Homo sapiens: one gene and its partners. The protein of the gene in region 3 purifies or fractionates together with the protein of the main gene of each other region. This does not show direct contact. Each region holds a gene or a part of one and is shown on either strand. Other genes may lie near its edges. The genes, in order: NDC1, ACAD9, TMEM9 and OPA3.

Region 1 (7,321 bases), about 150 Mb from region 3:
CTTTTCGTTCCTATGATCACAGTCTTTGACAAGCTTATTAATCTTATTACATAATAAAAAGGTGATTTATGTTACGAAGGAGACATCTTAAAATTATCTCAAAGTGAATGTTTTGATGTGTCAATATAACATAGGCAGTAATTGAAAATAAACTGCTTGAAACATAATGCAATTTTTATGTTGAGAAGTAGGTCCTATAACTTTCTCCCCAAGTTGAGTATCACCTACCAGACAGCCACTGTATAGGATGAAACAAATCAATCCTGCTGAAAATTATAAATACTGTGGTGCAGATGGGTAGAAATAGCACTGACCAAACAATACTTGCAACTATCCTCCAGCCCAAAACCTATAAACAAAAAGAAAAACCCTCACTCATGAAGTCAGTTAAATTATTTCAGTTATGCAAATCCTATCTTTTCATACAGGATGTTAACCACTAACTCAGATCATAATCCGTAACTCAAACATTCACTACTAGTAATAACATTACGTACCACTAAAGAATTTATAGTATCAGTGAGCTGATGCCTGCATTAGTACAAAGTTAGGTGCAACATCAAATATCATACTTTGTATGAGGGGTGGTGGGCATTGATTTACAGCTGTTTTAGAGCAACTAATACTTGTCTCTCTAGGCTTAATTGATAGCTATATTAATATATAAAGGCTGTACACATTTTATGGGAACCACCTGTATACTGTAACTGTATTTATAATCATCAGATATGAACCTTTACTGGGCAACTACGGCACTGTAGCATTCTATTCATGTTTGAATTGCCCGTATCTATCATATAGGAGGAAAATATTTACTGCTGAATAATACAAGAAGATATAGAGGGGTTTTAAGCATGAAAGTGACAATCAAATTCATGTTGCTCAAGGTAAAACATGTCTGTTTACTGAAAGCTGGCTTTAAGGAAGATGGAGGAGTTGGGACACGAACCAAACCAGAGACAATGCAGTTAGGAGGCAGTCCACCAAAAAGCTGAGGCCGGGCGTGGTGGCTCACATCTGTATCCCAGCACTTTGGGAGGCCAGGGTGGGCGGATCACTTGAGGCCAGGAGTTTGAGACCAGCCTGGCCAACATGGTAAAACCCTGTCTCTATAAAAAATTTTTTAAAAATTAGCCAGGCATCATTCCAGCCCGGGCAACAGAGCAAGACTCTGTCTAACAAAAAAAAAAAAAAAAAAGAATAAAGTTGAACTCCTATCCCACATTCTTTTTGATGTTGTGATTTTGAGACAGCTCGCTCTGTCCCCCAGGCTAGATGCAACAGTGCCATCTCAGCTCACTGCAACCTCCTCCTCCCGGGTTCAAGTGATTCTCCTGCCTCAGCCACCTGAGTAGCTGGGGTTACAGGTGCCCGCCACCACACCTGACTAATTTTTTTTTCAGTAGAGATGGGGTCTCGAACTCCTGACCCCAAGTGATCCTCCCACCTCAGCCTCCCAAAGTGTTAAGATTACAGGCGTGAGCCACAGCGCCCAGCCTCCTATCCCACATTCTATACAAAAATTAACTCAAAATGGATTAAAGACCTACATGTAAGAGCTAAAACTATAAAACTCTTGGAAGAAAACATAGGAGTAAACCTTCATGATCTTGGATTTGGCAATGGTTTCTTAGATATGACACCAAAAGCATAAGCAACAAAAGAAAAATATAGATAAATTGGACATCAGCAATATTTAAAACTTTTTTGCTTCAGAAGACACTGTCAGCCAAGTGCGGTGGCTCACAAGTGCCAAAGGTGGCAACAACCCAAATACCCACATACTGATGAATGGATAAACAAAATATGTGGTATGTCCATACAGTGGATTATTCAGCCACAAAAAGGAATGAAGTACTCATGCATGCTAAACATACACCAGGCACGATGGCATGCACCTGATGTCCCAAATAGTTAGGCGGCTGAGGCAGGAGGACTAGTTGAGCCCAGGAGCTCAAGACCAGGCTGGAGAAGATATCGTATCTCTATTATAAAAATAATTTTTAAAAAAATTTTAGAGGCCAGGCACGGTGGCTCACGCCTGTAATCTCAGCACTTTGGGAGACCGAGGCGGATGACTCACTTGAGGTCAGGAGTTCAAGACCGGCCTGACCAACATGGTGAAACCCCATCTCTACTAAAAATACAAAAATTAGCTGGGCGTAGTGGTGCGTATCTATAATCCCCGCTCCTCGGGAAGCTGAGGCAGAACTCCTTGAACCCTGGAGGCGGGGGTTGCAGTGAGCCGACAACGCGCCATTGCACTGCAGCCTGGGCAACAGGGAGCGAGCCTCCGGCTCAAAAAAAAAAAAAGATAAGACTTACGGACCCAAAAGTTTTTAGTTTGGAATACAGGGGAGATGGCAGTGCACTGGGATAGAAGCACTTTTCCAAAAGGGATCTTTCTCCTCTTTCTCTTTGCACTCCAGAGAAGCGATGTAGTACTGTTAATTCCGTAACTTTAAGGAGGAAGTACTATTCCACTCAGCTCAGTCCCATTCTACCTTACAAAGAACACCTGCCCTGCTTACTGGACCCTAACCCCAGCCTCTACTAATGCCACATTTCTTTCCAATTCCGTGCATTCCTTCCCACTTCTTAACGAAACAAATTAAGTTATTTATTTTGCACCTACTGGATACGGTACCCTTGCGTAAAACTCCGCCTCACTCCCTATTCCAATTTCCATTCAGTCCATCCGTCCCACTCTGACCAGCTTCCTTCCACTCAGGACCCCTCTCCTACCCCGTAACCAACTTCCACTCAGGACTTCCCACAACCCTGCAATCAGTCCCCCAAGTGGTGCCTTCCCCACGCGTTCTCTCCACGCTGCCCCGGGACCGGCCCTCCCCCGCCCAGCGCGCACGCGCGATCAGAGCTTGCCCGCCCGGCCCGACCCTGGCAGTGCGTGCCACAGTGCACGCCGCACTCACGCGCCACAGTATGTCCCGCGACCTGCCGGCGCAGGGCCGGCTCACGGCCGTGGCCATGGAGATGGCGGCCCCTAGTCTAGGGCGTACAGGAGACCGTGCGCCCGCCCGCCACCGCAGTTCAAAGGCAGGAAGGCCCCAGGAGGACCCTGCTGGGTCTGCCTCAAACGCTGCCTGAGCGAAGCCCGGCCCAGGCTCCAACCCATCCCTGCGAGGCTTCGTCTGGACAAGCTCAACAGGCCAGGACTGCCGCGCAGACACGTCCCGCAAACGCGGCTGTAACTCCAGGAACCGCCCTCTGGCGACCAAACGGTCCCTTCGAAGCAGGGTCCAGCGGGGCGCCAGAAGCAGGTGGCGGCGCTGCATGCTGGGAACTGTAGTCTCGACGGCCCCCTGAGAGGAAGTAGGAGGAATGTTGCATTCTGGGACTCGGAGTTCCAAAGTACAGAATGCTGGGAGTCAAGGTCTTCCTGGAGGTGCCTTGAGGCATGCTGGGAATAGTAGTCTTTTATAAAGCCGATAACAGCCACAGTATTGATTGACTGGAATTCTTCAGTTAGAGCTAGCAAAATGATCTGCCCTCATTTCTCCCTATTACTTTATAAGTCACCTAAAAGTGAAACCAAAGGATGTGGTGGTCTTCTCCACAATAGGTACGCAGTAATTTTACTGAAATAAAAAAAAAATTCTCTAGAGATGCCTTTGGTTTCATAAAATCTGGTTTCTACTTCCAGATCTGCCACTTGCTAAATTGAATATTTTTATCTTCTCTGAGCCTCCATTTCTTCAACAGTAAGATAAGGATGAAAATAAAAATATCCTGGTGATGTTGTGAGGATGTAAATAATATGCTATACAAATGTTATCATTAATATACTGCCAGTAAGAAAAAAGGTGTTTCACCAACCCAAGTTTCACCTAATGAAGTCTTCTCAGTGCTTTAGACCTCAGTGAGATCTCTGGATGCATATCGCTAACGCCTTTTTATGCTCAATCACATGCCACAGTCAACATGCAATACTCAAGACAGAAATAGATTCAGTGATTTACTGACTAAGGAAATGCATAGGCTGGTGAGAGGAATTGAGATCACACCTACTGCTCTGCAACGTTTGCTAACAATGGCTTCCTGAATGCTTTAAGATTATATCCTATTCACTTCCAAAATCATGTTACTATCAATCATGTCTAAAGCACTGTAGGACAAACTGGGAATACAACTGATAGATCAAGTCTCTGCCGTGAAGAGATCTATCCGGTGGTGGAGAAAACTTGTAAAGAATTAGTCCAGGCCAGGCACAGTGGCTCACACCTGTAATCCCAGCACTTTGGGAGGCCAAGGCAGGAGGATCACAAGCCAGGAGTTTGAGACCAGCCTGGGCAACATAGTGAGACCTCATCTCCACAAAAACAACAACAACAACAACAACAAACTTTTTTTTAAATTAGCCGGGTGTAGTGGTGCACACCTGTAGTCCAAGCTACTCCATAGACTGAGGCAGGAGAATTGCTTGAACCTGGGAGGTTCAGGCTGAAGTGAGCAGTGATGGCGCCATCACACTCCAGACTGGGCCATAGAGTGAGACCCTGTCCAAAAAAAAAAAAAATCAGTCCAAATGCGTGTTCATAAAGACACCTCAGGTTCTAAGGTTCTTGTGGTAGAGACTACTCGTTGTCTGCCTCAATATCTATTCTCCCCTTCTTTCATAATAATTGAACTCCCAGTTTTTTAACTGGGCATATAGTTATATTTCCCAGCCTCTTTTGCAGCTAGGTATGGCCAGCTGACTGAGTTCAGGCCAATAAAATATAATCAAAGTATTGCATGGTAGCTTCCTAGAAACCCCCTTAAAAGGGAGCTACTGCATGATGGTCTTTGCCTCTTCTTAATCCCATCCTCCATTCAGCTGCCTGGATTTGGGATGTGTTGGCTGCAGCTCTAGCACCATACTGGACCACAGAAAGGGGGTCACACTGTAGGGAAAATGAAGTACTGAGCCTAAAGGAGACTTGATTATTTATGGCAACCATATCAGTTCTAGGCTACCTGCCTTTACCTCCTAATTTCATTTACACAAGAGAGACAATTATTTATTGTTTAAGCCACATCTATTTTTTTTTTTTTTTGAGACAGAGTCTCACTCCTTTGCCCAGGCTGGAGTGCAGTGGCATGATCTCAGCTCACTGCAACCTCCGCCTCTCGGGTTCAAGTGATTCTCCTGCCTCAGCCTCTTGAGTAGCTGGGATTACAGGCGCATACTACCATGCTGGCTAATTTTTGTATTTTTTAGTAGAGACGGGGTTTTGCCATGTTGGCCAGGCTGGTCTCAAACTCCTGACCTCAGGTGATCTGCCTGCCTCAGCCTCCCAAAGTGCTGGGATTACAGGCATCAGCCATCGCATCCAGCCTCTGCTTCTGTTTTTATAGCACCTATCACAGTCTTAAATCATCTTGTTTGTTTACTTCTTATTGTCTGACTTCTCACTAATATACAGACTTCACAAGAGCAGGGACTTTGTCTTGTTTATCATCGCTTCCAAAGTACCCATTACATTAGTAAGTAATAAATGAATTTTTATTTAATGAATAATGAATGAGTGGAAGAAATTAACTATATTGGACAGTGTTTCTTCAGGACAAAAACTTTTGATACCTATATCAAAGGGGGATTTAATGCAGGGAATTGATAACAAAGTTGTTGGAGAGGCTAAAAAAGCATAGGAAAGAAAGAACGGGGCTGTAGTAGCTAAGAGCAGAATGGAGTTACTGCCCAAATACCAGGAAGCTACTGCTTCCATTTAGAGCCATGAGACAACACTGAATGCTGAGCTGCTGAGGGTGGTGCCCCTGCTGCTGTTAGAACCACTCTGTTGATTTGAGCACCCTGTAGCTGCTGAAAGCACCACCCAGAAGTGCCTGCAACTATCCAAAGTTGCTCTCTGAGCCTTTGAAAGCCATAACCTGGCCGAGTGTGGTGGCTCACACCTGTAATCCGTTTGAATTACTTTGGGAGGCCAAGGTGGGCGGATCACAAGGTCAGGAGATTGAGAACATCCTGGCCAACATGGTGAAACCCCGTCTCTACTAAAAATACAAAAATTAGCTGGGCATGGTGGCACATGCCTGTAGTCCCAGCTACTCAGGAAGCTGAGGCAGGAGAATAGCTTGAACGAGGGAGGTGGAGGTTGCAGTGAGCTGAGATCGTGCCACTGCACTCTAGCCTGGAGACAGAGTGAGACTGCATCTCAAAAAAAAGAAAAGAAAAGAAAAAGAAAGCTATAAACTAATTATTTGAAATAGAATAAATTTTTTAAATGATACAAGACCTCTTTGGTCTCAGCCACAAAGGGAACACCATCGTTTGGAAAGCATTGCAGTAAGACACACATGTTGTGCTGCTGCTGTGCCCCTAAGGCCTATGCCCTTCAGTAGTCAACCTGTGGCACATGTGCCACCTTGCCAAGCACAAGAGGAAGTAACACTGGAGTACCAATGCTGAAAGATGAAATACCACCAGGACTAGTCAAATGAGGCACCTAAAAAGTGTATACCACAGATTCAGGCAGGGATTCCGTGAAGGAACAACACCTAGACCTAAGACGGCAGCTGTTGCAGCATCCAGTTCATCTTAAGAATTTCACTCCAGCCTGGGCAACAAGAGTAAAACTCTGTCTCAAAAAATAAATAAATAAATAAAAGGAAAAAAAAGAATTTTGATGGTTAGTCACCCAATAAATGTTCTGGTTGGCCGGGCGTGGTGGCTCATGCCTGTAATCCTAGCACTTTGGGAGGCTGAGGCAGGTGGATCATTTGAGGTCAGGAGTTCAAGAACAACCTCGCCAACATGGTGAAACCCCATCTCTACTAAAAATACAAAAATTAGCTGGGCATGGTGGTGGGAGCCTGTAATCCCAGTTACTTGGGAGGCTAAGGTAGCAGAATTACTTGAATCTGGGAGGCAGAGGTTGCAGTGAGCCAAGATTGCGCCACTGCACTCCAGCCTGGGTGACAGAGTGAGACTCTGTCTCAAAAAAAAAAAAAGTTCTGGTTTTTAAAAATTAAAAAAAAAAAAATGATACAAGACATGAAGAACAATACCAGTTAGTATTAGAAAAACTCAGAAATTATGTGATAGAACTCAGGAAAGAAATCAAAATTTAAACAATTATTATAAAATGGAAGTTGAATTAGAAGAGCAAAGAAACACAACAGTAATGTCATAACAAACGAAGAACTTTTATAATCAAAAAAGGAATAAAGAAACAAAAACAATTTTAAGTGACAAATAGAGAAAATAGGCAAAGAAGATCTAACATATGAATAATGGGAGTCCCTGAAGACTCTGGAATCTCATTTTAAACCATCACTGTCTCGCCCAACAACACACAAG
Region 2 (7,025 bases), on a different chromosome or scaffold from region 3:
TATGCAGAAAGAAGCCAGACAAAATCACACATAATATAATTCCAAAAAATACGAACTAATCTATAGTGAGAGAAAACAGATCAGCAGTTGCCTGGAAACAGGGGGGAAATAAAAGAGGCACAAGGAAACTTTGACGGGTAATGAGTACGTTCACTTCCTCTGTTGCACTGATGGCTCCTGAGGGGTACTCTCTAAATACAGTCATGCGTCAGGTGATTCTCTCCCTGTATGAACATCAGAATGGACTTACACAACCTAGGTGGCAGAGCCTACTACACACCTAGGCTATATGGTATGGCTTATTGCTCCTAGGCTGCAAACCTGTACAGTAGGCCGGGCGTGGTGTCTCATGCCTATAATCCCAGCACTTTGGAAGGCTGAGGCGGGAGGATCACTTGAGCCCAGGAGTTGGAAACCAGCCTGGGCAACACAGTGAAACCCCATCTCACTGTTAAATATTTTTTGTTTTTTTTTTTTTAAGGAAAACAAAACAAAACAAAAAAGCTGTACAGCATATTACTGTGCTGAACACTGTAGGCAACTGTAACACAATGGTAAGTATTTGTGTATATGAACACAGCTAAACATAGAAAAGATACAGTAGAAATATGGTATGATGATCTTATGGGATCACCACTGTATATATGGTCTGTCATTGACTTGAATGTCATTATGTGTCACATGACAGTGTGTGCAATTTATTGTAAATCAATTATTCCTTAATTAAACCTGAAAAAAAAAAAAACCTGACAAACCACATAGGAAAAGTTTAAATAAAAGAACAAGAGACTATGGGAGCTAAAAAAAGATACAAATAGGAAGATAAACACTAGGAAAAAAAGCAGAAATAAGTATTTCTAAATTATAAATTATGTTTATATATAAATAAGCAACTTTTAAAACTAGCAACATATAATTTGTGATCACCAGGTGTGAAATAAGAAACAAACAAAAACCAAGCAATGTAATGACAGCTGACAATTTGGCACTTCTCAAAGAGGTTCTGGGGGACCTGAGCTGCTTCTAGGGGGTCCCACAGGATCAAAACTAGTTTTTATTTTTTTTTGAGATGGAGTCTCACTCTGTCACCCAGGCTGAAGTGCAGTGGCGCCATCCCAGCTCAATACAACCTCCACCTCCCGGGTTCCAGTGATTCTCCTGCCTCGGCCTCCCCAGTAGCTGGGATTACAGGTGGGCACCAACACACCTGGTTAATTTTTATATTTTTAGTAGAGACAGGGTTTCACTATGTTGGCCAGGCTGGTCTCAAACTCCTGACCTCAAGTGATCCACCCACGTCGGCCTCCCAAAGCGCTGGGATTGCAGGCATGAGCCACCATACCTGGCCTAAAACTACTTAAGATGTTACTTGCTTTTAAATTCTAATTCTCTGAAGACTGTACAGTGGGGCGCAGTGTAGTGTATTTAACGTTTTGGCTCAGAGTCCAATATATAGTCCAAAGTACCATGTTCCCAGAATTTATGTACGGCCTTTATATGAATAAATCTTGATCAAGGATTCAGAAAAAAGTCTTAGGTTTGCATATAAGTCACTCAAAGCAGTAAAACAGGCTACTTGGATTTCCAGCAATATTTGTGCTTTTATTCTTGGCCATTACTTTTGGGGAAGGGTTGTCTGTCCTGGTTGGTTTTCATAGAGGCCAGTTGTGGGAGGATGTGATTTTTCTGTGTCTCCAGATGACAGTGCCTCTATTTCCGTGGCACTGCTGGCTGCCTACAGCTGTCATTCCAGAGGGCCCTTTGTCCACAGTGATTAGCCTCCTCTTTGAATGTACATGAAATAGGTGTATTTTTGTATGTTCTTTTCTCTGCTTTGCCCTTGGATTTAACTTCCTTTTTGAATTCACATCATGGCAGCTGAATGAACATAGTTTTTATTCCAGCATTTGCTATTTATTCCAAGAGACCTTTGTTCCTGTGAGAGGGAGTGGGTTTGGTTTGCAGTGGTTTCTTGCATATATATATATATATATATATATTTATTTATTTTTTTATTTTTATTTTTATTTTTTTTTGAGACAGGGTCTCACTCCTGTCGCCCAGGCTGGAGCTCAATGGCATGAACACAGCTGACTACAGCCTTGACTTCCCAGGCTTGGGTACCTTCTCCCACCTCAGACTCCCAAGTAGCTGGGACTATGGGCGCGCACCACCATGCCCGGCTAATATTTTAAATTTTTAGTAGAGACAGGGTTTCGCTCCATTGCCTAGGCTGGTCTCAAACTCTGGGACTCAAGCAATCTGCCCCCCTCAGTCTTCCACAGTGCTAAGATTACCAGTGTGAGCCACCGTGCCCAGCCGGTTTCTTATATATTTACATCTCTGCAAATACAAAGATGACAGTTATTGCTGACAGAGCCCTATGTCCTGGAAGTGTGTGTTTCTTGCTTTAAATGCACGTGTCAGGACAGGTGCGGTGGCTGACACCTGTAATCCCAGCACTTTGGATTACAGGCAGATCATTTGAGGTCAGGAGTTCAAGACCAGCCTGGCCAACATGGTGAAACCCCATCTCTACTGAAAATACAAAAATTAGCCAGGCGTGGCGGTGCGTGCTATAATTCCAGCTACTCAGGAAGCTGAGGCATGAGAATCACTTCAACTGCAGAGGTTGCAGTGAGCTGAGGTCGTACCACTGCACTCCAGCCTGGGTGACAAAGCAAGAGCAAGACTGTCTCAGAAACAAACAAACAAAAAGCATGTCTGAAGATTATAAAAAAAGACAGTTAAAAAAAAAAAAAGACTGCACAGTGGACTTTTCCAGAGGTTACGTGCACAAACAGGTATGAGAATCCAGCTGTCTTCTAATAAGCCAAACATTAAAAGGACTTGCATAACTTTCAACCAATGTCACTCTTTCCATCAATTTTTTTCTTTTTTTTTTTTTAACTTACTTTTCTTTTTTTTTTCTTTTTGAGACAGAGTTTCACTCTTATTGCCCATGCTGGAGTGCAGTGGCGCGATCTCGGCTCACCGCAACCTCCGCCTCCCAGGTTCCAGCGATTCTCCTGCCTCAGCCTCCTGAGTAGCTGGGATTACAGGCATGTACCACCACGCCCAGCTAATTTTGTATTTTTAGTAGAGATGAGGTTTCTCCATGTTGGTCAGGCTGGTATCGAACTCCCGACCTCAGGTGATCCACCCACCTCAGTCTCCGTAAGTGCTGGGATTACAGGTGTGAGCCACCGCGCCTGGCCTGATTATTTTTCAAAATATTTTTCATTAGCTGGCGCGGTGGCTCACGCCTGTAATCCCAGCACTTGGGGAGGCTGAGGAAGGCAGATCATGAGGTCAGGAGTTCAAGACCAACCTGGCCAACATAGTGAAACCCCATCTCTACTAAAAATACAAAAATTACCCGGGCGTGGTGGTGCATGCCTGCAGTCCCAGATACTTGGGAGGCTGAGGCAGGAGAATCACTTGAACCTGGGAGGTAGAGGTTGCAGTGAGTCGAGATTGCACCACTGCACTCCAGCCTGGGTGACAGAGTGAGACTCTGTCTCGGAAAAACAAAAACAAAATATTTTTCATTAAAAATATTATGTTAACATGTAATGGATTTATTATTTTTAAACAAATGAACACAGTATATTTTATTTTTTTTTTTTAGACAAAGTCACACTCTGTCACCCAGGCTGGAGTGCAGTGGTGCAATGTTGGCTCACTACAATCTCTGCCTCCTGGGTTCAAGCAATTCGCCTGCTTCAGCCTCCTGAATAGCCGGGATTACAGGCACCCGCCACCATGCCCGGCCAATTTTTGTATTTTTAGTAGAGACAGGGTTTCACCATGTTGGCTACGCTGGTCTTGAACTCCAGACCTCAGGTGATCTGTCCCCGTTGGCCTCCCAAAGTGCTGGGATTACAGGCGTGAGCCACTGCACCCAGCCCCACAGTATATTTTAAATTTCTCAGTTTTAATTTCTAAGAGGGGCTAGGCATGGTGGCTCACACCTGTAATCCCAGCCCTTTGGGAGGCCAAGGTGGGAGGATCACTTGAGCCTAGGAGTAGAGACCAGCCTGGGCAATATAGTGAGAACCTGTCTCTATGAAAAATACAAAAAAATTAGCTGGGCATGGGGGTGCGCACCTGTAGTTCCAGCAACTCAGGAGGCTGAAGTTGGGGGACTGTTTGAGCCTGAAAGATGGAGGTGGTGGTGAGATGAGATGGTACCACCACACTCCAGTCTGAGCAACAGAGCTAGGCCCTTTCTCAAAAAAATAAAGTAAAATAAAAATAAAATAACCCCTAAGATGGCAAATATTGATAGATAAAATTCATATAAACAAAAGCTCTCCAGGATCCTACTATTAGGGAAGACCTGCTGTCCATCCACCATCACTGAACTCTCCACCAAGGCCCTGGCTGGAGGACCGGCCAACAGCTCTGAGAGAGGGACCTGAGGTCAAATGCTGCCTCACCATGCAGGTGCCAAACTGTGGCTGGTCCACAAATCACTCTTTGTTTACAATTACCAAAGTACAGAAATTGAAACTCAACCTTTAGAAACACTAAGAGCAACTGTACACTGCCACAACAACCAACACATGCTCCATGGGCTTGTATGGTGTGTGGCCTTGGCTTTTTGCCATCTAATTTTTTTAGTTATTCATTTTTATTATAGCTTTATGGAAGTGTTGACCTGGAACAGTATGGAAATGTTTAAAGTGCTCCTGAACCACAAATACAATGAGAAGCATTTAACTGGATGTTTTTTAATTAAATGGCAATAGGGATGAAACCTAAAGCAAAATATTATGAGTGGAAACCATTTCTCCCTCAAGAAGACTTCTCCTATGTATGTCACTTCTAATATAAATATCAACCAAATAGCCCTTACAATGGAAATCGGCAATGGTAAAGAAAACCATACATACCCTCTTCAGTGAAGAATTTTTCCACGGGTCCCAAGAACTGATTGATTTCATTAAGTTCATCTTGGCTAACTTCTGGAAATGGGAAAACTTCTTTCTAAAAATAGTAAATATTTTCTAAAAAATTTAATTTTTAGCACACTCCCATCACGGAAATATCAGTTAAAAGGGAAGGAAAAACATGTGCTCCACTCCACCCTGGCCAGCGGGACATGACGTACTGAAGGAACTGGAAAGCAAACCTCACAAGGTTCCTGAGATACAGAAACTATGTGCAGGCTCCACCACCCACATCCATCTCCCTCCCCTGTTCAAATAGGTTCTTCCCGATTTTCATCAGTTTTCCTTCTCAGTACAAGGGATGATAATAGTCCCATGAAACAAGGAGCCCAAGACTAACATTTAGAAGCCTGGGGGTCTGGTCCTTGATTTCAGGCTTACTCATTATGTGGCCTTCACCAAATCCCTTCAGCTCTCTAAACTACCCCTTTCTCACCCATAACATGCAGGTAATATTTACTCAAGGCCCTTGTGAGAATCGTGGAAGATAGTGGATGTGGAAACTCCTTACTGAAATGGACAATTCTACATCAATTATTGTGTGAGCTCAAAGATGCTATGCTGACAAGAGCACATCATGCTTACCAAGTCTCATCGATCCCTACAGCCGCTGTCTCTCCTGCTCACAGACATCTGCTCCCTGTGCTGAGCCCCTCTGGACTTTTGGGCTCTGCTACCCCTTCAATTGCCAGCATGACATGAGCTTTGGATGTGGGCTTCAGGCTGTTGAGCAGTGATGTCCTGAGTCAGAGCTATAAGCCCAAGCATCACCTGTCCTCATGGCGCCTCTCACCAAGTGTTCTAGAGAAGTCTTGGGGAGACCTCAACCTTCTCCTCAGACCTTGTACAGCTAATCAGCCAACAGATTTCTCTACTCTATCAATATGCTCGCACTGCTTTCTCCTCTCTGGGCCCAGGACCACAGGCTTATAGGTGAGTCCCTAACTAAAAGTGACAGCCAACTTAAAGGAATCCCTGCCTCCATCCATTCCAAAACCACCCTGAAGGTGGTATAGAAAAAAAAAAAGGTTGGAGGCCAGGCACGGTGGCTCACGCCTGTAATCCCAGCACTTTGGGAGGCCGAGGCGGGCGGATCACGAGGTCAGGAGTTTGAGACCAGCCTGACCAACATGGTGAAACCCCGTTTCTACTAAAAATACAAAAATTACACGGGCTTGGTAGCACGCGCCTGTAATCCCAGCTACTCAGGAGGCTGAGGCAGGAGAATTGCTTGAACCCGGGAGGTGGAGGTTGCAGTGAGCCGAGATTGCGCCATTGCACTCCAGCCTAGGTGACAGAGTGAGACTCCATAAAAAAAAAAGAAAAGAAAAAGAAAAAAACAAGCTTAGCTGGTTGCAGTGGCTACTGCCTGTAATCCTAGTCCTTTGGGAAGCTGACGCAGGGGGATTGCTTAAAGCCCAGGAGTTCAAAACCAGCCTGGGCGTGGTTGCACACGCCTGTAGTTCCAGCTACTCAGGAGGCTGAGGTGGGAGGATCCCCTGAGCCTGGGGAGGTTGAGGCTGCAGTGAGCTGTGATTGCACCACTGCACTCCAGGGTGGGCAACAGAGTAAGACACTGTCTCAAGGAAAAAAAAAACAAGAAAAAAAAAAAAAAACAAGCTGATGGCTCCATCACTCTGCAGCCTTTTATATCAAAGCTCAGTCTCCTTCACTGAACACAGAGGCTCACTGACACTTGGGTCTTGTGCAATGGGCTGTGTTAGAGATCATTCTGGTACCAGTGGGCAGGCCAGATAAGACTGCCTGGCAACTAATTGGCCTTCAGGTACAACCACAGAAAACCTGCCACACAGGAGAGATTGCAGGGGCGTGGGAGAAAGATCCTGATGTTATCAAATCAGGTCAATGCCTTAGGGGAGGAGAGTTCAATTGCAATAAACAGTTTGTAAATTATCTAAAAAAGTGGAACCTGTTATTCAAAGAAATCTAGTGCAGAAACCAAATATGTAAAACAGACAGAAGCAGGCGGCTCTGACTGAGACTGCTGATAGGGAAAACAGGCACCCAAATCCCACCCACTCAACTTCCCACCCATCCCTGCAGCAGTTC
Region 3 (7,025 bases):
TAGAGAAGTTGGCAAAGGTAGGTATTCTGACCACATGCTGTAGGATACCTAATGCTTTTGCAAAGCTGTGTTACATGTGTTATTCTGTGCCAGTCTTATAGCATCCTTGTAAAGTAGGTGGGATGGATTTTGCTCCCATTTTATAATAGCAGAGACAGAGGCCCAAAGAAATAATTTAGAGTGTTGAATTCATTTCTGGGTACCTCACTTTTAAAAAGAGAAGAATAACCCAGAATTCATTCAGAGAAAGGAGACTAGTGCGGTGAAGGGAAGTTTTAGCACATTGTCCTGGAAGGAATGGTTTAAGGAAGCAAGGAAAGCCTAAAGAGGAGAGGACTTGGGGACACACGATGATTGATTGAAAGCTGGCATGTTATGGGAGGTGGGACATGTGGGAGCAGGTACTGGTGTGGATCAGTTATGTTCAGTGGGGTTTCTTGGTGTAGAGTTGGGGCCAAGGATAAAAGCTTCAGGGAAACCGACTTAAGCATGAGTTGAGGGAGCATTTCTAATCTAGGCAGTTTTGGGAGCCAGGAAGCTCCGTTCTTGGAGGGCCCCGAGCACAGATGGGCTGAGGTCACTGTAGAAGAGATCAACATCAGATGAGAGGTCCGGGTCAGTGCTGCCTCTCCTGCTTTCTCAAAGCAGATGAGCTTTGAGAAAATACACATTTCCAGTACCACCACCACTGCTCGATTTTGATTCTTCAAATACGGAGTGAGGGTGAGGGGAGGCAGTAACCTTTCTTTCCTTTGGTGCTTAGGATGCAGTTGATCCAGAGCAACACTCGAGAATTTTGAAACTAGTTGAATTTCCAACTCTGAGACTGTCGGTGATTTTCTGAGAGGCAGTCTAGTTAGATAGACAGACTCTGTGTTCCACCTTCCTGACTTCAAATTTAGCTTAGCTGCTTGTTAATTGTGTGACAAATTACTTAATCTCCACTGCACTTTGATTTCCTTATCTATAAATAGTGGCAGTATTTTCTGTGTTAAGTATGTACGTGTTTGTGTGTGTGTTGTGCGTGTATGTGCACAGGTCAGTAACTATAGCACTTAGAACAATACCTGGCACACAGTAAATGCTTATATAAATGTTAGCTGATATTAATGTATATTATCATGCCTTACTGGTGGCCACATAGATAGTCATGGTCAAACTTACACCACAGACTGAGAAAATGGGCTCCTCCTGAAGCACTAGCCTTCTACTTAGGAGAATTCCAAGTAACCCCCTTGTATCTTGTGGTTATAGTTCAAATAGCATCAGTAAAAACTTAGATGGGCTGTCTTAGCCCTTCACCAGATAACAAGGCTATATCCCAAACTCCTTATGCAGGCAGACACTTGCAAATTTAGGAACACTCTCTCTGTCCTGGAGCTATAGATGGCCTGAAAACCCAAGGTTGGATGCCTGCAGAGGACGGAGTCCTGTCTAGACCTCTCAGGCTGTAGTTTATCTCCTTCTTCCCCTCAGAAGTCAGAATTAAGGGGCTGCTTGATGAATAGCCTTACATCAGGAACCTCAGGGCAGCTCCATTAAGGGTGGTGGGTGTAAACTGAGGCTGGAGGAAAGACTCCAGGATTCTAGGACCCAGTGACACTGACCTTGACTGGGAGTCATCCTGTGCTTGCCTGGAGCCTCTTAAGGGTAGGGTGGGGCCTTGACATTGATCTGAGTACCTCAGTGCTAGGGTTAGAGGAGGCCAGTTTGAGTGGGTCTTCTGGTCTCTGCCACATTTTCACTTTGCTGTCACGTTGGTCCATGCTAAAGAACACTTGCACCCTTCTCCTTGGTTGTGCAGAGTAAAGCCAGAATCATCTGACATGCGGTCCTCAGGTTTAATGGCCAAGCCATGTATGTTCCTGTGTTTACAGGTATCCTGCCACCTAGTGTTGAGAGATTATGACCATATGTGCATAAAAAGGCAAAAACCCCAGCTTTGCCCCATTGGTGGGTCCGGCAAGGAGATGTGTTATTAGAGACACTCCCAGAGCAGGAAAGCACTGAATAAGTTGGCTAGTTCCTTGCCTTTCAAACTTGTTAAAATAGAACTTCTCTGCAAACAAAATCCGTTTTGGAAACAAAATCTATAAAACATAAAAGTCGGAATTGCTCTGCCTGAGAGGGAACTGTCCCTCAGCCCCTCCCTGACTACCACCCCACCGTACAGTGGTTCCTGTGGGTCCCAAAAGAGTACAGTTTGAAAGACACTGACCAAGTTCAGTCTCCATTTATAAATGAGGGAACCGAGGCCTGGAGAAGTTAAATAAATTGCCCCCAATCACAGGAGAGTTGGAGACAGCAGAACTATTTCAGCTCCTTATTGCTGTTCCCCTGGGTAGCAAGATCCCACATTGAAGAACTCAGGTCGCCCTTCCAAACTGCCCCTGACACCTTGGCCTTGTGAGAAATCCATAGATTCCACTGCAATACTGGTATGACCTTCTAGACCCAGGACCCAGTGTAGCTCAGGTAAGGGAGGAATCTGGAGGCTTGTAGAGACTTCCTGGAGAAGGGAAGATGGCATTGCCTCTGGACAGGAATGGCAGCCAAGTGCCCTGGGTGACCCTTTTTCCGCTGCTCCCAGCGGAAGCAGCATGCAAGGCCTGAAAGCAGTACTTCCGGTTACAACAGGGGAGACCTGCTCAGAGCAGGGAATAACATGTTGGACACAGAGGTGGAACTGGATCATGAAAGGTTTAGATAAACTCATGTATGCCACATATGGCTTTTTGGGAGAACAGAGTCCTTTAGAGCACATCCCATTCTTAATCCAACACATGGTCTTTATATCACACACCCTTGATGCTTCTGCCAGAAACCCAGCCCTGTAGCTCAGAAGGGAGCTATGCTTGACTCTTGCAGGACTCCTGTCAGAGCTGGAAGGGCCTTTTAAAGATTATCCGGTGCAACCGCTTTATCTCAAAGAGAAGAGAACGGGCCCAGGGTATAGACACTTGGTGGCAGAGCCAGGACAGAGCCCAGGTGCATTGCAGCATGACACCTGCTTCACCTCTGCACACCTCCAAGGGGTTTGGATTTTTCCATTGGTAGTAATGAAGGTGCATTCTGTAGAGTTTTTTGCTTTGTCAGTGTGGTCCCTGAACCAAACAGGTTGGAACCATGCTGATCTGAGGAAGGCTGGGAATGAGAGGCCTGAGACAAGCCAGGTACCAGCCCAGGCCCCACTGAGGCTGAGTCAGAAGTAAAGACCTGTGGCTGAGGGTCTAGATTTGGGTTCTGGCCTCACTACCACTATGGAGATGCCACTTTGCCTCCTAAGCCTCTTTCCCTGTTTTTAGATGTGGAACCTATGATCTTTATCCCACCTTACGCAAGAGTGCTGTTAGATGAAAGTGGGTCTACTCTTCCTTTGGGAATCATGTAGTTACTAAGCCTGCTCTGGCCAGCACCCAGCTAGGTACTGGGAATATGGAGATGTATAAGACATAACCCTGTGTTCAAGGAACGTACATCTCCTGGGGAGACAGCACGAATAAAGATTGGATTACAATGCAGTGCATTGGCGGGGGGTTGGGGGGAGCTGGCTATTGGGCACAGGTGGCTAAGCTGAGAGTTAAAAGATGAGGTGGCAAAGCCATGCCCTCCTGGTGAGAGTGTGGGTGTGGCTCCTTCAGAGAGCAGCCTGGCAGATCCGTGTGGCTGGAGGTTGGGAAAGTGGGTGAGGGAGGCGTAGCAAGAGATGGAACTGGAGTGAGGTGGGTTGGGACCCCTGGCAGAGCAATTGAGTTAGCATTGGCCCTAGGGGCTCTGTGGAGGCACTGACCGGGCCTAAGCTGGGGAATGACATGACCAGAGTTGCATTCTGGAAAACCACTTGGCTGCCGTGGGAAGGTAGTATGTGTTAGAAAGGCCAAACTCGAGGCAGGAGGGCAGCGCGGAGGCTGGTGCGGTTGTCCGAGGAAGATAGGATGAGGGCCTCAGCTAAGACACAGCAGTGGGAGAGAATAAAGGAGATGGATTCTAGGAATTTTTAGGGAAGTAAAATCACTGGCCTTTGGTGATTTTACTTAGATGAGAGGAAGGCAGTGTCAAAGATGATTTCCAGGGTTTGACCCGGACAGTGAAGTGGACGGTAGAAGTGTTCTCTCTGCCATTGCAAATGGGGAGCCAGTTTGCAGGAGTAGGGAGTTGAGGGCAAAGGGTGTGCAGGGGCGGGTGTAGAGTTCATGGTCTCTATGGGACATGCACATAGTGACTCCTGTAGCTCATAGAGGAGAGCGGCCCTGGCTGGAGATTCTGATCTAAGATCCGTCAGCTTCTGAGTTGAACCTTTGGGACAGATGAGCACATGCCGGGAGAACATAGCATGAGATGAGGAAGGCGGCTGGGGGTAGAACCCTGGGAACGTTGATGGTTTTGGAGCCAGCCCTGTAGGCAGTTTGGAGAGCTGGTTTTGATGTGTAAGGGGCATGGGCTGTGAGGCTGTGGGTTAGGAAGGGTTTCTGCCAGCCTAATCCTTTATAAGCCCTTGGCCCTCTCTGGGAGCACCCTTCACCTTTGCCTAGCCCCTACCTCTCAGCTCCCCTGGCTACCTGCTTCTCTGGTCTTGAGGCTCTAAGACGTGGTGGCCCTGCCTCGACAGCCCTGTCTCTCTCTGTTGTAGCAACTGCCTGCACGTGGTGGAGCCCATGCCAGTGCCTGGCCATGACGTGGAGGCCTACTGCCTGCTGTGCGAGTGCAGGTACGAGGAGCGCAGCACCACCACCATCAAGGTAACGCCAGGGTCTCAGGAAGCCAGTGGGATTCCCACACGCCATTCTCCAATCGCAGACTGGCCTACACCCACAGTTTTTCACTTTATTCTGGAATGTCCCAATGGCTATGAGACTGGCTTCTAGGCTGGCCTAGTGCAGACACTGGGACCCACATCCCACACCTTCCTGGAGCCAGCTCCCTTCTCTGCTCTCTTTCCAGTAGTTACCATTACAGTGAGAGGGGAGAGCCCTGGGAGAGCTGCTGGAGACTCCTTTTTCCCTGCATTCTTTACAGTTTATTTCGTTCCTCTCCCTTCTTCTATTCATCCAGTAAATCTCTTTTCGGTGCCTGCTATATTCTGGGCAAGATGCTGCCAATGGGGAGGTTGGGCTGCCCTCCTGGAGCTTAGTCTAATTAAGCTTCCAAAGTGACTAAGCTCCTCTAAAAAGCATCAGAGCTGTGGACTAGGGCTGGGTGTTGGGTGCTGGGAGAACATCAGATTGGTTCTTTTGTGTTTTCCTGAACCACCTTCTCATTGATCATTTGGGTGAATTCAGGAAAGAGATGATAGACACAGTCACCACCATAGACGTCACGAGGTGTCTGTTCATTCCTGCACCAGGCAGAACTTCCCGTGTCTTCTAGAGGCTGTGAAGCCGCCCTAGCAGAGACCGTCATGACCCCCAGCCCCCCAGTGCGGCTTCCTAGTCCAGGTTCTAACAATCCTGGGCCAGGCACCTGGCACACACAGTACTCACTGATTACATAGCCATTTCTTTTTTTGTTTGTTTTTTAGAGACTGGGTCTGACTCTGTTGCCTATGCTGTAGTCCAGTGGCACGATCACAGCTCACTGCAGCTCTGACCTCCCAGGCCCATGCAACCCTCCCACCTCAGCCTCCTGATTAGCTAGGACCACAGGTGCACATCACCACACCCAGCTAATTTTTTAAATTTTTGGTAGAGACAGGGTCTCACTGTCTTGCCCAGGCTTGTCTCGAACTCCTGGCCTCAAGCACTGCTCCAGCCTTGGCTTCCCGAAGTGCTGGGATTATAGGTGTGAGCTCCATGCCTGGCCTAATGTAGCCCTTTCTGTTCCAGTTTGTAGCATTTTTCTGCTTGTCCTTTGAAGAGTCTATAAATAGCATTGGAAAATAATTCTCATATTTAAAGGCACTGCTGGGTCCTCCATCAGGTTTCTCCTTTCGAGGCACATTTAGGGGGCGGTGGTCTTCACTGCTGTCCTTCCTGCCTATTCCAGGGAGCCCTGTGCTGTAGCTCCTCTGTGTTCTCACCACTCAGGGAAAAAGCAGCTGTCTGTCCTTCACTCCCAGCCAGTGCCCTGTGCAGACCCAACTCCTTTCATCCACCTGAGGCAGCCCCTCCTGCAACTGTCATTCTCCTTCTCTGAACTTGCTCCAGTGGGCCTCACCCTCCAGGGACCAGATGCCTGAGACCTGAAATTCAGAGCCAGATGTCACCGCTGCTCCCTGTTTGGCCGGGAGGGAACTTCCTGGCATGGGGACCTCATCAGATACAACTTCCTAATCCCTCGTGTTTCCCCCAGTCCTCCTACCTAGGAGGCTCCCCTCAACTTCAGCCTATTGAAGACCCAGCCTCTGTTCTCCTTCCGCCTTCCTGGGGTACAGGTGAGGTCTGATTATTTGCCCTGTTTAAACAGGCGTGAACGCGGTGCCCCAATCAGGTGGGACATTGGTCCAGTGGAACTTGGCTATTGGCTGAGCGGGGCACCCAGCTTGAAAGTCCTGAGGTTCTTTTTTTCACTCTTCTTCACAGTCTAGGTAGGGCAGGGCTGAGATCAGAAGCCGGCAATGGCCAGGCATTGTGGAATTAGGAAAAGCATTTGAGAGGGAGTCAGCAAGTCTGGGTTTGAGTCACACCTCCACCATCTGGTAGCCTTGGGATCACAGGTGATCTAGCCCAGCAGTTCTCAATCAGATGATTACAGCCCCCCCAGGGGGCATTTAGAGGTGGGTGAAGGTGCTTTTGTGGTCCCAATAACAGGTGTATTACCAACACTGTTACAGGGACCATGGATGCTAAATGTCCCACCCAAAATCCCAGAGCACCCACATTGAGAAACATTGAATTTGCCTCATTAAATCTGTCTTTTCTGTAAAAACAAAATGACTCCAGCTTGTGAAGCACTGTGTATGTAAGAGATTCGTGGAGTTGTTGTTCTACCCTTGGCTTTCCCCTCCCTGCAGAGGGGCTGATGGGAGGGCAGGCGTGACCTTCACCCCCAGCACACACCTTCTTACCAGCCCTAGCCACTCTGCTCAG
Region 4 (7,025 bases), on a different chromosome or scaffold from region 3:
ACAAAACACCCTCCCGCACAGCCAACTCTGCGTGAATTACTCTTTGTCTTGCAGTTCTCCTCTCTTGATGAATCAGCTCTGTCTAGGCAGCGGGCAAGGTGAACTCCTTGGGCGGTTACACACCATTCATCCCTCCATCCATTCATTATTTCCTTTAGCTGGTATTTTGTGAGCCTCTGCCCTGTGCCAGGCCTTGTGCTGGCAATGCTGGCGAAACAGCAGGGACCAAACCAGCACCAATCTGTGCCCTCAAGGAATTCCTAGTCCTGCGGGGGACAGACGTATCCCCCAACAGTGGGCAGAGCTGAGATGGGGGAGCCCACTGGGCACCTGACATGGCATGGGGTTCAGGGAGGGCTTCCTGGCAGAGGAGACATCTGAATTGGGACCTGAAGGGTGAGGACAACACCAGGACAAGGCGTAAGGAAAGCACTGGGGCAGAGGGAGGAGCACACACAAAGCCCACATGATTAAGGGAGTGCACTTTTTTTCCCCCTCTGTAAGTTTGGATGCTTAAAGTTTGCTTTCCAGGGCCCGGAATTCTTGGTTGTTCGGTGTTTGGTGGGGTCTTTGTTGGGGCTGCAGCTCTTAGAATGGGAAAGTATTAGATTTCACAGTTACCAAAGTGCTTTCCTGTTAGCCATCTCATTTGACCCCCACAACTGTTTTGTCCCCATGTCCGGAAAGAGGAATGACTTCCTCTGGTTTATAGAAGGGAAAATGGAGGTGTTGAGGGCAGCAGTTAATTGCTCAGGTCATACGCAGAGATTTGTGCCAGAGGCGAAACTTTGGACACTGAATTCCTAGACCCAGTTTGTTTCCTGTCTCTGCCTGTCTTCCAAACACTGTGACATTCTTAGCGTTGTGGTTTAGAAAATGGCTTCTGGAGCTGGGCGCAGTGGCTCATGCCTGTAATCCCAGCACTTTGGAAGGCGGAGGTGGGTGGATCATGAGGTCAGGAGTTCAAGACCAGCCTGGCCAACATGGTGAAACCCTGTCTCTACTCAAAATACAAAATTAGGCAGGTGTGGTGGCGCACACCTGTAGTCCCAGCTACTTGGGAGGCTGAGGCAGGAGAATTGCTTGAACCTGGGAGGCAGAGGTTGCAGTGAGCCAAGATCACACCACTGCACTCCAGCTTGGGCGACAGAGCGAGACTCTGTCTCAATAAATAAATAAATAAATAAATAAATAAATAAATAGGCTTCTGTGCTGGGCGCGGTGCCTCCCACCTATAATCCCAGCACTTTGGGAGGCCGAGGCAGGCAGATCACCTGAGGTCGGGAATTAGAGACCAGCCTCACCAACATGGAGAAACCCCGTCTCTACTAAAAATACAAAATTAGCCAGACGTGGTGGCGCATGCCTGTAATCCCAGCTACTCGGGAGGCTGAGGCAGGAGAATCGCTTGAACCCAGGAGGTGGAGGTTGCAGTGAGCCGAGATCACGCCATTGCACTCCAGCCTGGGCAACAAGAGTGAAACTCTGTCTCAAAAAAAAAAAAAAAAAGGCCGGGTGCAGTGGCTCGCGCCTGTAATCCCAACACTTTGGGAGGCCAAGGTGGGCAGATCACGAAGTCAAATTTCAAGACCTGCCTGACCAACATGGTGAAACCCCTTCTCTACTAAAAATACAAAAATTAGCTGGGCGTGGTGGCACGCGCCTGTAATCCCAGCTACTCGGGAGGCTGAGGCAGAAGAATCACTTGAACATGGGAGGCGGAGGTTGCAGTGAGCCGAGATCGTGCCACTACACTCCAGCCTGGGTGACAGAGCGAGACTCCATATCAAAAAAAAAAAAAGAAAAAAAAAAAGAAAGAAAATGGCTTCTGGAGTCAGACTGACATAGGTTTGAATCCCTACCCAGACTGGTGACTTTGGGTACGTCATTTAGCCCCTCTTAGCTTCAATTTCCGATTCTGTACATTGGGTATTATGTAATGGTCACATTAACTGGGCTTGTACTTTGTGCCACGGCTTGTCTGCAGCACCTTCCAGCCTCTGGCACTGGGTCCTCACCAGTTATGATGAGGTAGATACTATTATTATTATTATTATTATTTTGTGTATATACTATGTATGCATTATGCTGTAAATAATATTTATTGTGTTGTGGTGAGGATTAAGTAAATGGATATAAAATGTTAAGTCAGTGCCTGGCATAGGGTCATGGCTGTCACGTAGATGTTATAGATACAACAGGCAGGAAAAAGCAAAACATCTTGCCCTCAGGTACCTTACATTCTTGTGGAGGAAGCCAGACAATAAATGAAATAAATAGTTGGCTGGGCCCAGTGGCTCATGCCTGTAATCCCAGCACTTTGGGAGGCTGAGGCTGGTGCATCACTTGAGGTCAGGAGTTTGAGACCAGCCTGGGCAACATGGTGAAACCCCATCTCTACTAAAAATACAAAAATTAGCCAGGTGTGGTGGCAGGCACCTGTAATCCCAGTTACTTAGGAGGCTTAGGCAGGAGAATCACTTGAACCCAAGAGGCAGAGGTTGCAGTGAGCCGAGATTGCACCACTGCACTCCAGCCTGGGTGACAGAGTGAGATTCCATCTCAAAAAATAGTTAAAAGATGAAGTATATTAGATAGCAATAATTGCTCTAGGAAAAAAATCAGGGTTGTAGAACAAGGAGTATTTAAAGGAAGGCTATAAGCCTAGATAGGATTGTCAGGGAGAACTCACTGAAAATATGCCAAGGAGGGAGGGAACGAGCAGCATTGCCATCTGGGGGAAGAAACGTTCCAGCCCAGAGGATCCCGCATGCACACAGGACCTGAGGCATGAGCGTGCCTGGCACACAGGACAGAGGAAACTGATGACGGGAAAGGGGGACAGTTTGTATGGGGCCTGTGGGTCACTGCAAATGCCTTGGCTTTACTCTGAGTGGAACAGGACTTACTGGAGGGTTCTGTGCAGCAGAAGGACAATATCAGAGTTCTGTTTTATTTTATTTTATTTTATTTTTTGAGACAGAGTCGCACTCCGACACCCAGGCTGGAGTGCAATGGTGTGATCTTGGCTCACCACAACTTCCGCCTCCCGGGTTCAAGTGATTCTCCTGCCTCAGCCTCCCGAGTAGCTGGGATTACAGGCATGCGCCACCACGCCCGGCTAATTTTGTATTTTAAGTAGAGATGGGGTTTCTCCATGTTGATCAGGCTGGTCTCTAACTCCCAACGTCAGGAGATCTGCCCGCCTTGGCCTCCCAAAGTGCTGGGATTACAGGCATGAGCCACCACGCCTGGCCCGGGAGCAGAGTTTTTAAGGATAACTTGGTGGGTGAGGGGAAGCCAGTGAGCCAGGAGTGCTGATTGGTCAGAGATGAAATCATAGGAATTCAGAGATGTCTTGTGCTCAGTTAGTTCCTGGGTGGCGGTGGGGGAGGGGGAGGGCGGGCACAAGATCAGATGAGCCAATTTTTTGATCTGGGTGGGGCCAGCTGATCCATCAAGTGCAGAGTCTGCAGAATATCTCAAGCACTGATCTTAGGAGCAGTTTAGGGAGGGTCAGAATCTTGTATCCTCCAGCTGCATGACTCCTAAACCATAATTTCTAATCTTGTGGCTAATGTTAGTCCTACAAAGGCAATCTAGTCACCAGGCAAGAAGGAGGTCTGCTTTGGGAAAGGGCTGTTACCATGTTTGTTTAAACTATAAACTAAGTTTCTCCCAAAGTTAGTTCAGCCTTCACTCAGGAATGAACAAGGACAGCTTGGAGGTTGGAAGTAAGATGGAGTCAGTCAAGTTAGATCTCTTTTGCTGTGTCAGTCATAATTTTGCAAAGGCAGTTTCAGGATTACAGGCGTGAGCCACCACGCCTGGCCTCAAAATCTAAAATATTTACTCTCTGCCCCTTTACAGGAAGAGTTTTCTGACCCTGCTCTAGAATAGTATCCCTGCCCTTGTTTTTTGACATTGACATTGGAGCCAGTCCTCTGATTGATAGTGTGTCCCGATGTCTGGAGTCTCCTGATTGCTTCCCCGATTGGATTCATGTTGAACATGTTTGGCGGGAACACCACAGACTCGAGGTGCCTCCTAAGGACATCCCTTCAGGGGACTCCTGAGGTCTATTTGTTCTGTCATTTGTGATGGTGATTTGGATCGCTTGGTTAAGGTGTAACCATGTCAAGAACCTTTCCTTTTCCTCTTAGTAATGAATAACCAGTAGATTTGTTTACAAGGTAGAGCCAGCAGGATTTCCCATGGATTGGGTGTGAGACAGCCGACTGGAGGAGGGGCAGGTTGGACAGAAAGACCTGGAGCTCAGTTAGGGACAGGTCGAGTTGGAGATGCTACCAGATATTGCAATGTACTGGCTTCTTACATTTACACCTTTTAATTACATCATTAGTGTCTTCACACTGCTGATTGCCCTTTGCTGTGGCCCCCAGCCATGGTGATTGGAATTTCCCAGGGTGCACTGGCGGCCCTGCTTTCTCTCAGGTCAGGCGTCCTGAGCTGACCAGCAAATCCAGTATCTGTACCTTTGGCTGAGATACTTTTGACTCAGCAGGCTGCGCCCAGCTGTCTCACAGGAGAGGCTGGAGCAGTAGCTGTGGCTGCCTGAGGAAAGAACAGTACATGCTAGAAGCATAAATCATCGATGATGCACCCTGTTGGGGAGGCAAAGATCTTTTTAAACACAGAATTCCTTTGTTTAAATTATTTTAACCCAAAAGTAAAGGAGGTTGGTGATGTTAGGCAGGTTGAGGCCATGCCTGCAAAGTGCACTTTTGGTGCTCCCAGGGAGGCTGTGAGATATCTCTGGGCAGTAGGAAAATTCCAGCTCATCTGTGTTTATTCCTTTGGCGCGCACTGGTCCTTTTTCTGGTTTATCACACACAGTAGGCAGTAGAGTGACTGGTCCCCCAAAGATGTCCACATCCTTATCCCAAGAACCTGTTGAATATGTTACCATGCACAGCAAAGGTGACTTTGCAAATGTGATCAAATGAAGGATTTGGGGATGGGGAGATGATCCTGAATTATGCAGGTCAGGTCAGTGTGATCACAGGGGTCCTTATAAGGGAAAGAGGGAGGCAAGAGAGGGAATGATTTGAGGGATGCTGCCCCGCTGGCCTTGAAGATGGAGGAAGGGAGGCATGAGCCAAGGAATGCGGGCAGCCTCTGGAAGCTGGAAAAGCCGAGGAGATGGATTCTCCACTGGAGACTTCAGAAAGGAACACAGCCCTGCGGACACCTTGAGATTAGCCTAGTGAAAGCCATTTTGGACTTTTTTTTTTGGGGGGGGGGGGATGGAGTTTCATTCTTGTTGCCCAGATTGCAGTGCAGTGGCACGATCTCAACTCACTGCAATCTCTGCCTCCTGGGTTCAAGCGATTCTCCTGCCTCAGTCCCCTGAGTAGCACCCACCACCACACCTGGCACCCACCACCACACCTGGCTAATTTTTTGTATTTTTAGTAGAGATAGGGTTTCACCATGTTGGCTAGGCTGGTCTTGAACTCCTGACCTCAGGTGATCCACCTGCCTTGGCCTCCCAAAGTGCTGGGATTACAGGCGTGAGCCACTGCGCCCAGTTTTTTGTTTTGTTTTGTTTTGTTTTTTGAGAGGGGGTCTCACATGGTCGCCCAGGCTGGATTACAGTGGCATGATCTCAGCTCCCTGCAACCTCTGCATCCCGGTTTCAAGCGATTCTCCTGCCTTGGCCTCCTGAATAGCTGGGATTACAGGCGCATGCCCTAATTTTTGTATTATCAGTAGAGACGGGGGTTTCACCATGTTGGCCAGCTGGTCTTCAACTCCTGACCTCAGGTGATCCACCCGCCTTGGCCTCCCAGAGTGCTGGGATTACAGGCGTGAGCCACCACAACTGGCCCCCATTTCAGACTTCTGACTTCTGGAACTGTAAAATAATAAATTTAGGGCAGGTGCGGTGGTTCATGCCTGTTATCCCAGCACTTTAGAAGGTCGAGGCAGGAGGATCACTTGAACCCAGGGGTTCAAGACCAGCCTGGGCAACAAAGCGAGACCTTGTCCCTACTAAAAATAAAAAACAATTAGTGGGGCATGGTGATGCATGCCTATAGTTTTAGCCACTCAGGAGGCTGCGGCAGGATTGCTTGAGCCCAGGAGAATGAGGCTGCAGTGAGCTGTGACCGCACCCCTGCACTCCAGCCTGGGTGACAGAGCAAGACCCTGTCTCAAATAATAATAATAATTTGTGCTGTTTTAAGCCACTGCATTTGTGGTAGTTTGTTATAGTGGCCGTGGGAAACAGATACACCATGATCATTCATTCAGGTTGCTGAGGTCATTTTTTCAGAAGTGCTCAGCTCTGTGGCCATTCTTATGAATTTAGGCCATGGACTTGGTTTCAGTTTTCTTTTTCTACATAGCCATCTGATCCAAAGCTTGGTGGCTTACCGTAGTAACTCTTAGCCAGGTGCAGTGGCTCATGCCTGTAATCTCAGCACTTTGGGAGGTTGAGGTGGGTGGATCACTTCAGGCCAGGAGTTCGCGACTAGCCTGGGCAACATGGCAAAACCCTTTCTTTACTAAAAATACAAAAATTTAGCGGGTACCTGTGGTCCCAGCTTCTCAGGAGGCTGAGGCAGGAGAATCGCTTGAACCTGAGAGAGGTGGAGGCTGCAGTGAACCGAGATCGTGCCACAGCACTCCAGCCTGGGCAACAGAGCAAGACCCTGTCTCAAAAAGGCAAACAAACAAAAAACCCAGTCACTCTTAGTTTCTGTTACCTTTGTGGCTTGCCTGGGCTCAGCCGGACAGTTCTTTTGCTGGTTGCTGCTTGGCAGGCTCTCATCCAGGTGCAGGTGGAGGTGGCTGGGCTGGAGTCATCTGGAACTGGCACTGGGACTGGGGAGTTGGTTCCCTCTCAGCGTAGCCTCTGGGCCTCTCTTCTCCACGTGGTCTTTCCTGCAGGGTAGCTGAATATCTCACATGGCTGCTCAGGACTCCCCAACAGCCAGATTTTCATGAGGGAAGAAGCAGAAGCTGCAGGTTATTTAAGGGCAAGGCCTGGAATCTTCCAG

What was found.
Region 1: the proteins of TMEM9 (region 3) and NDC1 purify together in Homo sapiens (co-immunoprecipitation; 2 studies listed by BioGRID and IntAct, with this or other methods). This does not show direct contact.
Region 2: the proteins of TMEM9 (region 3) and ACAD9 purify together in Homo sapiens (co-immunoprecipitation; 2 studies listed by BioGRID and IntAct, with this or other methods). This does not show direct contact.
Region 4: the proteins of TMEM9 (region 3) and OPA3 purify together in Homo sapiens (co-immunoprecipitation; 2 studies listed by BioGRID and IntAct, with this or other methods). This does not show direct contact.

Annotation. Positions count from the first base shown.
Region 1 is NC_000001.11:53,835,272-53,842,592, forward strand, and holds the start of NDC1 (nucleoporin NDC1), read right to left. Parts: upstream 3,026-7,321; 5' UTR 2,991-3,025; coding exon 2,934-2,990; intron 2,865-2,933; exon of another isoform or gene 2,690-2,864; coding exon of another isoform or gene 2,636-2,689; intron 350-2,635; coding exon 229-349; intron 1-228. UniProt on the Homo sapiens protein: Component of the nuclear pore complex (NPC), which plays a key role in de novo assembly and insertion of NPC in the nuclear envelope.
Region 2 is NC_000003.12:128,882,620-128,889,644, reverse strand, and holds part of ACAD9 (complex I assembly factor ACAD9, mitochondrial), read right to left. Parts: intron 4,993-7,025; coding exon 4,899-4,992; intron 1-4,898. UniProt on the Homo sapiens protein: As part of the MCIA complex, primarily participates in the assembly of the mitochondrial complex I and therefore plays a role in oxidative phosphorylation.
Region 3 is NC_000001.11:201,144,454-201,151,478, reverse strand, and holds part of TMEM9 (proton-transporting V-type ATPase complex assembly regulator TMEM9 isoform a precursor), read left to right. Parts: intron 1-4,630; coding exon 4,631-4,739; intron 4,740-6,143; exon of another isoform or gene 6,144-6,370; intron 6,371-7,025. UniProt on the Homo sapiens protein: Transmembrane protein that binds to and facilitates the assembly of lysosomal proton-transporting V-type ATPase (v-ATPase), resulting in enhanced lysosomal acidification and trafficking.
Region 4 is NC_000019.10:45,574,778-45,581,802, reverse strand, and holds part of OPA3 (optic atrophy 3 protein), read left to right. Parts: intron 1-7,025. UniProt on the Homo sapiens protein: May play some role in mitochondrial processes.